2 linked regions of the Homo sapiens genome follow. The protein of the gene in region 2 purifies or fractionates together with the protein of the main gene of each other region. This does not show direct contact. Each region holds a gene or a part of one and is shown on either strand. Other genes may lie near its edges.

The links.
Region 1: the proteins of SLC51B (region 2) and TMEM38B purify together in Homo sapiens (affinity purification with mass spectrometry; 2 studies listed by BioGRID and IntAct, with this or other methods). This does not show direct contact.

What each region holds. Positions count from the first base shown.
Region 1 is NC_000009.12:105,774,495-105,777,392, forward strand, and holds the end of TMEM38B (trimeric intracellular cation channel type B), read left to right. Parts: 3' UTR 1-2,135; downstream 2,136-2,898. UniProt on the Homo sapiens protein: Intracellular monovalent cation channel required for maintenance of rapid intracellular calcium release. Acts as a potassium counter-ion channel that functions in synchronization with calcium release from intracellular stores.
Region 2 is NC_000015.10:65,041,202-65,048,386, reverse strand, and holds the start of SLC51B (organic solute transporter subunit beta), read right to left. Parts: upstream 3,001-7,185; 5' UTR 2,805-3,000; exon of another isoform or gene 2,674-2,804; coding exon of another isoform or gene 2,643-2,673; intron 1-2,642.

The sequences.
Region 1 (2,898 bases), on a different chromosome or scaffold from region 2:
ATCATTAAAATTGCTAGGTATGGAGAACAATTCCTATTTTATTTTGAACACTGAGAAGAGTAAACTTTTCCTAAAACACTTTATATTATAAATGAAAATAAATTGCTAGTTTATATTTTAGATATAAACATCATATTTTTTATTAATACCTACATCAAATGGAAAATATCTGAAATTTTTTTTCCATAGCAGGTATTTTCTACTAGAAGTAGTTTTACTACTTTTCATTTAGAACAGAGTATGAGTCTTAATCTGAAGTCTTTTTCATGCCCTTGTTTTAAAAAAACTACTTTTTTTGGCCTCAAAAAAATCAAGGGTGTAATTTTTAATAAATTGTTAATCCTATGTTTTGTAATTTTCATTTTAGGAGCTTGACTTATTTTTTTCTCTCTCATAAAAACACATTTGTTTTAATTGTAGGAGAAATTTTCTCAGCATTTTGCATGTTCTTTCTAATCTTTGTTGGTCTGAATATATTGGTAGTAATTACTGTAATTATTCAACAAAAAGCATATCCGTTCAAAAATTTTTCCACTATGTCTTTTTTCTAGTGGCTACTGTTTTAGTTTTCTAGTTGAATATCTCTGACAAGCTTTCGTATGGTTTTGTTATATTTTCATCTACATGTAATGTGTTATTAATTTTATTAAATGAAAACTAATCACCTTCATGTGGAAATGCTCTGAGAATTGTCCTTAGGCATTTGGTAGTAACCAGCTAACCAAGAAGAAACAGAGAAACCAGAACTTCATATGGCAGTCCATTTAGATGAAGAATGATGATATAAAATCTGGTTCCTTCTTAGCAAAATAAAAAACAAACAAGAAAAGATACTAAATGATGTTAATTTTCTTACTTTATGATTTAGAAGTCCAGTTATAATATTAAAACTCTGTGACATAGTTTCTTTTACCAAAACCATGAACCTACTCCCCGTATCAGGTATTTTCGATGGTTTAGAAGTACTCAAGTCACATCACATTCAAGTTAGAAGTTTTTTTTTTGTTGTTGTTATTTTAAATTTTTAACAAATATAAACACCAGCAGATACTATTACTTGCTTAAAAAATTGGGAGGGGGCACTTTTCATAGTCTTGGAATGCTAAGAAGTTTTATTTTTAATATTGTGACAGAAAGCTTTAAGTATTTAAGAGCTCTGTATTATATTTGATACTCTTACAGTTAAAAACTTTTCAAAATTAATACATTGTTAATTATTGACCAGTTTTGAAGTTTGGGTTTAACTGTAGTTGAAATGGAAGGACTCTTGTTTTACACTTGTATTAAAGATAAATTTATTAAAATAAGTTATTTAGCACCAATGGAGTATTACATTATTTTTATGTTTTATATTTTTCTTGAGGTAGAGTTTCAGAACTCATCTAGTATTTTGACTAATATAGTATATATTCAGTGATTACTGTTCAAATGGGACATTGGTAGAAACTTTATTAATCTATGCAAGTATCCTATAACCCTCAATTCAAGGCTCTTTTGTAAAAAATGTACTGGAGAACATGGCTTAGGCCTGAAACCCATCCTGAATCTATTCAGGTCACCTGTAGAGTCTTGACTTGGATTTGCAAAGCAGATTGTTAGACTCCTTACCCAATGTGAAGTGTGAATAAGGCCTATAGGCCTGCCTCACACAGCTAATCAGAGGTGGCACTGAGAAAGTCAAGTCCTAATAGGTCTCCTTAAAAAAAAAAAGGAGACAAAAAGCTGGCAAGAACATGAGCCAGCTTCCCTCAGTGCTGTCACTCTCAAGTAAAACATGGCCAAATGAATATCAAACTGGTTTATCAGATTAGTCACTCTTCCTTACTGAGGGAGTATCAAGTAAGGGCTGGAGAGAGACCAGATATGTGGAGTTGTTGGCTTTCAGTGGAAATGGTAGCCTCCCTGTGGGTAGAGACCAAAAGGTAGAGAGATGACAGAAGGGAGACTCTGATTAGTGTATTTTTTTTTTGTCTATTCCTTAAAGCCCAGACACCTTTCCATTAAAATCTACTTCAAATCACAAGTTGATTACAATTGAGTGGAACATCCCATGTTGTAAATGGAATAATGTGTTCAGAATGCTCTTTCTTTCCCCCAATAAAGCCCTTTATAGTGTTTGCCCCAGGTGTAATTCACATCCTTGGTAATATTCATTCAGTTGTTTATTCAACAAATATTGAGTACCAGTTATGGGTCAATCATTGTCCTAGGCTCTGAAGATAACAGAAAACAAGAAAAATGCTTTCTCCCTTGGAGTTTATATTCCAGTGGCGGAGAGACAGATAATAAACAAATATACTCTTGTGGTGGCAATAAAAGTTACGAGTAAATATTAAGTAGGACATAAGGATAGAAAGTGAGGGGAGTGGGATTGTTTGTTACAATAGGACTGCCAGGCCTTTCTGTTAAGATTGCATTTTAGCAGAGACCTGAAGGACATGAGGGAGCACACCATGTAGACTTGTGGGTAAATGTAAGGTTCATACTGATCCTTCATATACTTGATTTAAAGCATATATTCCCCCCAAATAATTGAATTTATTTTTATTTTTATTTTTTTTTGTTATTTTTTTTATTATACTTTAAGTTTTAGGGTACATGTGCACATTGCGCAGGTTAGTTACATATGTATACATGTGCCATGCTGGTGCGCTGCACCAACTCGTCATCTAGCATTAGGTGTATCTCCCAATGCTATCCCTCCCCCCTACCCCCACCCCACCACAGTCCCCAGAGTGTGATATTCCCCTTCCTGTGTCCATGTGATCTCATTGTTCAATTCCCACCTATGAGTGAGAATATGCGGTGTTTGGATTTTTGTTCTTGCAGTAGTTTACTGAGAATGATGATTTCCAATTTCATCCATGTCCCTACAAAGGACATGAACTCATCATTTTT
Region 2 (7,185 bases):
CATCAGAGTTTCCTCTAGCACTAAATGCTCTGAGAAAACTAAAAAGGCATATCTACAAATTGCAAGGGAAAATATTTTGACACAAATACAATACTGACTTAAGCTTTTCATATGTGAATGATCATTCATATGCCAAGGTGGAGATGGAAGTCAGGGAGAAAAAAAGACCTTTCTTAGACTTTTTTTTTTTTCTTTTTTTTTCTTTTGAGACGGAGTCTTGCTCTGTCGCCCAGGCTGGAGTGCAGTGACGTGATCTCAGCTCACTGCAACCTATGCCTCCTGGGTCCAAGCGGTTCTCGTTTGTGCCTCTGCCTCCCAAGTAGTGGGACTACAGGGCATGCCACCACGCCAGGCTAATTTTTGTATTTTTAGTAATGATGGGGTTTCCTCATGTTTCCCAGGCTGGTCTTGAACTCGTGACATCAGGTAATCCACTCGCCTCGGCCTCCCAAAATGCTAGGAATACAGGCCTGAGCCACCGTGCCTGGCCCTTTCTTAGACTTTCAAGGACTCACATGCACACTGCCTACTTACTCATTTGAGGGAGATTCTATCTATCTATCTATCTATCTATCTATCTATCTATCTATCATCTATCGATCTATCTGTCTATCTATCTATCTGCCTACCTACCCATCTAAAATCATGGAAAGACAAAGTTACAAGAATGGCCAACAGATGTGATCTTGTGTTCTAGCTCCAACTGACTGTCCAGAGCACTGTCCAAGAAGGATTGTGACATTCCATCCAGTCTCAGATGTAAGAGTGCCTGGATTGATTAGTAACATCAGCCACAGGCCCCTGTGCCATATGCAAACCCCTGAACTCACAAAGAAAAGTATTGAAGTTGAGAAACCAAACACAGTCTTCTTCTAGGGTGTGGGATGAGATTTAGACACATGGGATATTCATGTTGACCACTCCTGTATTGTGTGGTTTCTTATGCGTATACACTGCTTTCATGAGAACAATACATGTAATTCCATTTTTAATGTGTGTATATATTTCTATGTATATTTTGTCTATTTGTATGTATGTTTTTTTTTTTTTGAGATGGAGTTTTGTTTTTGCTGCCCAGGCTGGAGTGCAATGGTGTGATCTCGGCTCACTGCAACCACCGCCTCCCAGGTTCAAGAAATTCTCTTGCCTCAGCCTCCTGAGTAGCTGGGACTACAGGCATGTGCCACCACACCTGGCTAATTTTTGTATTTTTAGTAGAGATGGGATTTCACCATGTTTGCCAGGTTGGTGATCCGCCTACCTCAGCCTCCCAAAGTGCTGGGATTACAGGTGTGAGCCACTGCACCCAGCCTTTGTATGCATTTTTAAATGTAGGTATTATTGTACTTATACCTTTTGAGACAACAATTCCAATTTTTGATATTTAATTAATGGAACTAATCAGATCAGTGTACAAAGACGCAGGTAAGCTATTGTCCACAGTGGAGTGGTGTTTTTTTGTTTTTTGTTTTTTGAGACAGAGTCTGGCTCTGTCACCCAGGCTGGAGTGCAATGGCACCATCTTGGCTCACTGCAACCTCCATCTCCCGGGCACAGGCGATCCTCTCACCTCAGCCTCCTGAGCAGCTGGTACAACAGGCATGTGCCACCACGCCCGGCTAATTTTTGTATTTTTTGTAGCGATGGGGTTTCATCATCTTGCCCAGGCCAGCCTTGAACTTCTGAGTTCAAGCGACCTGCCCACCTTGTCCTCCCAAAATGCTGGGATTACAGGCATGAGCCACCGCGCCTGGCCAAAATATGTTTAAAATATGTTTAATATTGTTACAGTAAACACATACCAACCAACAAAAAACCAAAATGACAAATTGGATACAAATCCAGAACCGAGAGTCAGCCCTCCTCAGCTATGTTAGATGCCACAGAAACAAGCGACATATTTCTTTCTTTTTTTTGAGACAGAGTTTCACTCTTTTTGCCCAGGCTGGAGTGCAATGGCATGATCTCAGCTCACTGCAACCTCCACCTCCCAGGTTCAAGTGATTCTCCTGCCTCAGCCTCCCAAGTAGCTGTGATTATAGGCATCCACCACCATGCCCAGCTAATTTTGTATTTATTTATTTAGAGACAGAGTTTCACTCTTGTTGCCCAGGCTGGAGTGTAGTGGCACCATCTCAGCTCACTGCAACCTCCGCCTCCCGAGTTCAAGTGATCCTCCTGCCTCAGCTTCCTGAGTAGCTGGGATTATAGGTGCCCGCCACCACATCCAGCTAATTTTTGTATTATTAGTAGAGACAGCATTTCACCACATTGGCCAGGCTGGTCTCGGAACTCCTGACCTGAGGTGATCCATCTGCCTCGGCCTCCCAAAGTGCTGGGATTACAGGCATGAGCCACCGCACCCGGCCAATTTTGTATTTTTAGTAGAGATGGGGTTTCACCACGTTAGCCGGGGTGGTCTCGAACTCCTGACCTCAGGTGATCGGCCTGCCTCGGCCTCCAAAAGTGCTGGAATTACAGGCGTGAGCCACTGCGCCCGGCCAAAGACATATTTCTATCAAAGCACGTATCCAGTTTGCTTCTAAAGTGAGCATCATATTGTCATTTGCATGATTAAATTAAACTTTATGCCTTATTTGCATTTTGTTAGTTTTGCCTTTAATGTTCTTTTCTTGTTCCAGGATCCCATTTAGGATGTCATACTGCATTTAGTTGTCTTGTCTCCTTAAGCCCCTCTGGGAGATCTCTGCATTTTAAACAGGGCTTAACCATCGTGCCATTGGACTGTGACTTCTGCCAAAGACCTGGGCCACCCATCCCCAAGGCAAGATGAGGACACTCACCCCGGATCCTGAGTTCCTGACGACTGCCTTGATCTGCTGTTGGGAGCAGCACCGATTTCTGTATCTTCCTTTTCCTCCTCTTTATGGGAGAACAGGATAGTCTTTGCACTTGAGCTCTCCCAGGCAGTAACAGCTGTCACTTAGGGGACAGTGCCTGGAGAGCCTGCGGCAGCTGGACCCATCTGGTAGCTCTGGCCTTAGCACACGCCCAGGCCTGGAGCCTTCTGTATCACTCCAGGGTGACTGACCTCTTGAATGAGTGCACTCAGAGTGCAAACAGGCTCCACCTGACTTTCACAATCCGAAAGCACCAGTAGCCCAGTGCTTTCATTGTTATGTGTTGGCCTCAAGTAAAGAGAAAACATCCGGATCCTCTGGACAGGCAGGAGAATGGACTGCAGAGGACCTGCGGTCTGTGGGTTCCATCACTGCAGGGGGATATGTAGTGTGCCCACTCCAGGTCTCTATTGCCCAATATCATCAATATTTAACCACGGAGCAGGGAGCCAGGCTGGCCTTTTACAGCCTGTGCTTTCTCATAGTGAAGGTCATGGCATGATGTGAATTCCTCACAAGGAGCTGTAAAATATGACCTTTGGAGGTGGGGGTTGGGAAAGGCTGTGTGAGCACCAGTGACCCAGAGAGTAGGAAGCAGGCCAAGGCAAGTAACTTGATGGGGAAGCAGGAATGAGGTGCTCCTCCCACCTGACCAGCACCATTCAACTCTGATAGTCTATGGACTTTTCCACCAACTGGCTCCGTGCATCTTAGGCAATCATTGTTGGTTTAGCAAGGAGTGGGCTTATGTGAAATAAGCCCACTCCTTTTTTTTTTTTTTTTTTTTTTTTGAGATGGAGTCTCGCTGTGTCACCCAGGCTGGAGAGCAGTGGCACAATCTTGGCTCACTGCAACCTCCACCTCCCCGGTTCAAGCAATTCTCCTGCCTCAGCCTCCTGAGTAGCTGGGACTACAAGTATGTGCCATCATGCCCGGCTAATTTTTTCTATTTTTAGTAGAGATGGTGTTTCACCGTGTTAGCCAGGATAGTCTTGATCTCCTGACCTCGTGATCTGCCCACCTCAGACTCCCAAAGTGCTGGGATTACAGGCATGAGCCACCACGCCCAGCCGCCCACTCTTATTTCTTACTTCACAAATGAAACAGAGGCTGAGTGAGGTCACATGTCAAGCCCAAACTCCTCTATGAGTTAAACATTAGTCAACAGTGTGTACTGTGTGTGCATGGGGCAGAGGAAAGAAGACCCAACAGGGAATCTAGGGGCTGCCTGGAACTCCAGCTCCTCCTCATTTTGTAATGCATTCATTTATTCATTGAATAAATGTTACTTGAGCATCTACTGTGTAGATACATGGTAAATAAGACAGGTGAGGGCCCTGCTCCATTGGAGCTCAAACTCCAGGGGAGATAGCCAACAAAAAAGTAAGCAAAAGCATAATTAAAAGATAATTATAGCAGTGATCATTTCTGTGAATATCTTAAACAACATAATAAGATAGAAAGGGATGAGGTGGGGGAGACATGATTACTATATTACTACACTAAAAACTGAATGATGAGGGGTTAACCATGCAAAGACCTGAAAAAGCAGGTACAAAGGCCAGGCGTGGTGGCTCATGCCTGTAATCCCAGCACTTTGGGAGGCCAAGGCAGGTGTATCACCTGAGGTCAGGAGTTCGAGACCAGCCTGACCAACAAGGTGAAACTCCGTCTCTACTAAAAATAAAAAAATTAGCCAGGTGTGGTGGCAGGCGCCTGTAGTCCCAGCTACTCAGGAGGCTGAGACAGGAGAACTGCTTGAACCCGGGAGGCGGAGGTTGCAGTGAGCTGAGATCGCACCACTGCACTCCAGCCTGGGCAACAGAGCAAGACTTCATCTCAGAAAAAAAAAGAAAAGAAAAGAAAGCAAGCAGGTACAAAGACACTGAAGAAATAATGAGCTTAATGTGTCTGGAACAAAAAGGTGGCCAATATAGCTGAATCATAGTGATGAGGGGGAAGTGGCATGGAATAAAGTCAGAGGACAGACAGGAGTATCCACTCCTCATGGTGGGCCTTGTAAAACAGGGTAAGGAGTTTGTATTTTACCCTAAAAGTGATGAGAAGCCACTGGAGGGTTTAGGCAGGAAAGTGACATAATCTAATTGACATTTGTCTAAGATCACTTGGCCTGCTGGGTGGAAAATGGATTGTAGGAGAGCAAGAGAGGAACAGGGAGACCATTGGGAGGCTGTTATATTCATCCAGGCAAAACATATTAGTAGTTTGGACCAGGCTGGTGGCAGTGGAGATGATGAGAAGTGGTCAGATTCAGGGTGCATTTTGGAGAGAAAGGTAGTTGATAGATTTCAAGAGAGAAGCTCAACACTAACTCTCTTAAACACAAAAGGAATTTATTGGCTCATAAACTAGGAAGGGCAGGGTGGAGCTGACCTGAGGCATACGGGAACCAGGGATTTGACGACCCGTAGTGCTTTGTTTCTGTGGCTCTTTCCCTGCTTTTCTCTGGGTGCCAGGCTCATTACCCCAGGCTGGCCACCTCCGGGAAGCTTGACCAGATGATAGGAAACCCAGGCTCATGCTCTCATAGCTGCAGAGGAAGTAGCTACTTTTCTTAGCTCTTGTTTAAAAATTCTTGGAAAGGACTCTAATTGTCCAGCCTGAGTCATGTACCTATGTCTTGGATCAATTGTTATGGCTAGGGAGGGGGGTACCACTGATAGCCAACTCAGAGCTCATCATGCCTGTTGGGTAGCCAGGAGAGACAGGCTGTGAGCTGGACAGCCCATGCCATGTGGGTGCCTGAAGGAACCATTTGACCTCAATCCCCCTTGTCTGCCTCTGAGGAGTGTTGTGGTGCTCTAATGGGATGGTGTCCCCTTAACAAGGAGCCTGCACAATCCCAGGTTTTCCACTCTTCTGCTTCTGTGTCTTTTCTCTCCCTCCTCTTACCCTAGCTCTTTCTACTACGGCCTATCCAATAACTTGTTCCATGGTTGCCATGTGCCAGGCATTATGCCAGTGATAAACAGTCGAAAGGATTGTCCCTGCCCTCATGGAGACTCCAGTCTAGCAGAACAGACAGACGGGTGTTCATCATGTCATCACAACTTCTGTGTGACAAGTGCCATGAAGGAAACGTACACATGGAGATGAGAGCACATCACCAAGCCCTCCTTTCCTCACAGCATCACTATCATTCCTGGCCAATCAATCCCACCTTGAAATCTCCTCTCCTGACTTCTCCAGTCTCTTATCTCCCTACCTAGAGGATGATAGACAGTCAGCAGTGTAGTGGAGTGGAAAGGGCTTTTGGTTTTCCTCTGCTATTCTGGTATCTGCCACCTGCTAACCCTTCAAGCCTCAGCTTAAATGTCATCTTCTTAGGGAGGCCTTCCATATCAGTTGAGAATTGTGTTTGGCTCTGGGTAACAAAGACCCAATGTCAGTGGTTTAAACCATAAGAGTTTATTTTCTCATAGAAGAATGTCAGAAGTAGCCAGTTATTAATGTCGTAAGACCAAGGAAATCAGGGCTGAGGTTTCTAAGACTCCCTCATGGCCCCTAGATGGCTGATGCAGCTCCTGCCATTATATCCAAGTTCCAAGCAGAAAAAAAAGCAAAAGGGAAGAAGGACAAAAAGGTGTGACCATGCTCTATAGTAAACGAATAACCTATCTGAGAGTAAACTCAGATAATACAGAGAACTAAGGTCAAGGGAGTTATTCCCAGAAAACAGTAGCAAGGGCAGCCAGGTGGGCTAACCAAAGAACTTACTCTACTGCCAGGGTGGAGGTCTTCACAGCTCATGCCCAGCAGGATTTGATAACTGTCATGGGCCTGTGCTGCTGTGTGGACTGTAGCACAGCCTGCTAATTTCCCCCTAGATTACATTCTTCCCTTCTTCCTTTTAATAAGAGAATCCTCTAAATTTTAGAGGCATATGGCCACCCAACTGGAAACTGCAGTTCCCAGGCCAGGCGTGGTGGTTCATGCCTATAATCCCAGCACTTTGGGAGGCCGAGGTGGTCGGATCACGAGGTCAGGAGTTCAAGACCAGCCTGGCCAACATGGTGATACCCCATCTCTCCTAAAAATACAAATTAGCCAGGCATGGTGGCGTGCACCTGTAATCCCAGCTACTCAGGAGGCTGAGGCAGGAGAATCGCTTGAACCTGGGAGGTGGCGTGAGCTGAGATCACGCCATTGTACTCCAGCCTGGGTGACAGAGCAAGACTCCATCTTAAAATAAATAAATAAATTAATTAATTAAAAAAATTAATGAACCTGCATTTCCCAGATTCCCTGCAGTCATAAGTGGTCCTCTAAGTTTTGGCCGAAAGAGACCTGAGAAGTGATTGCA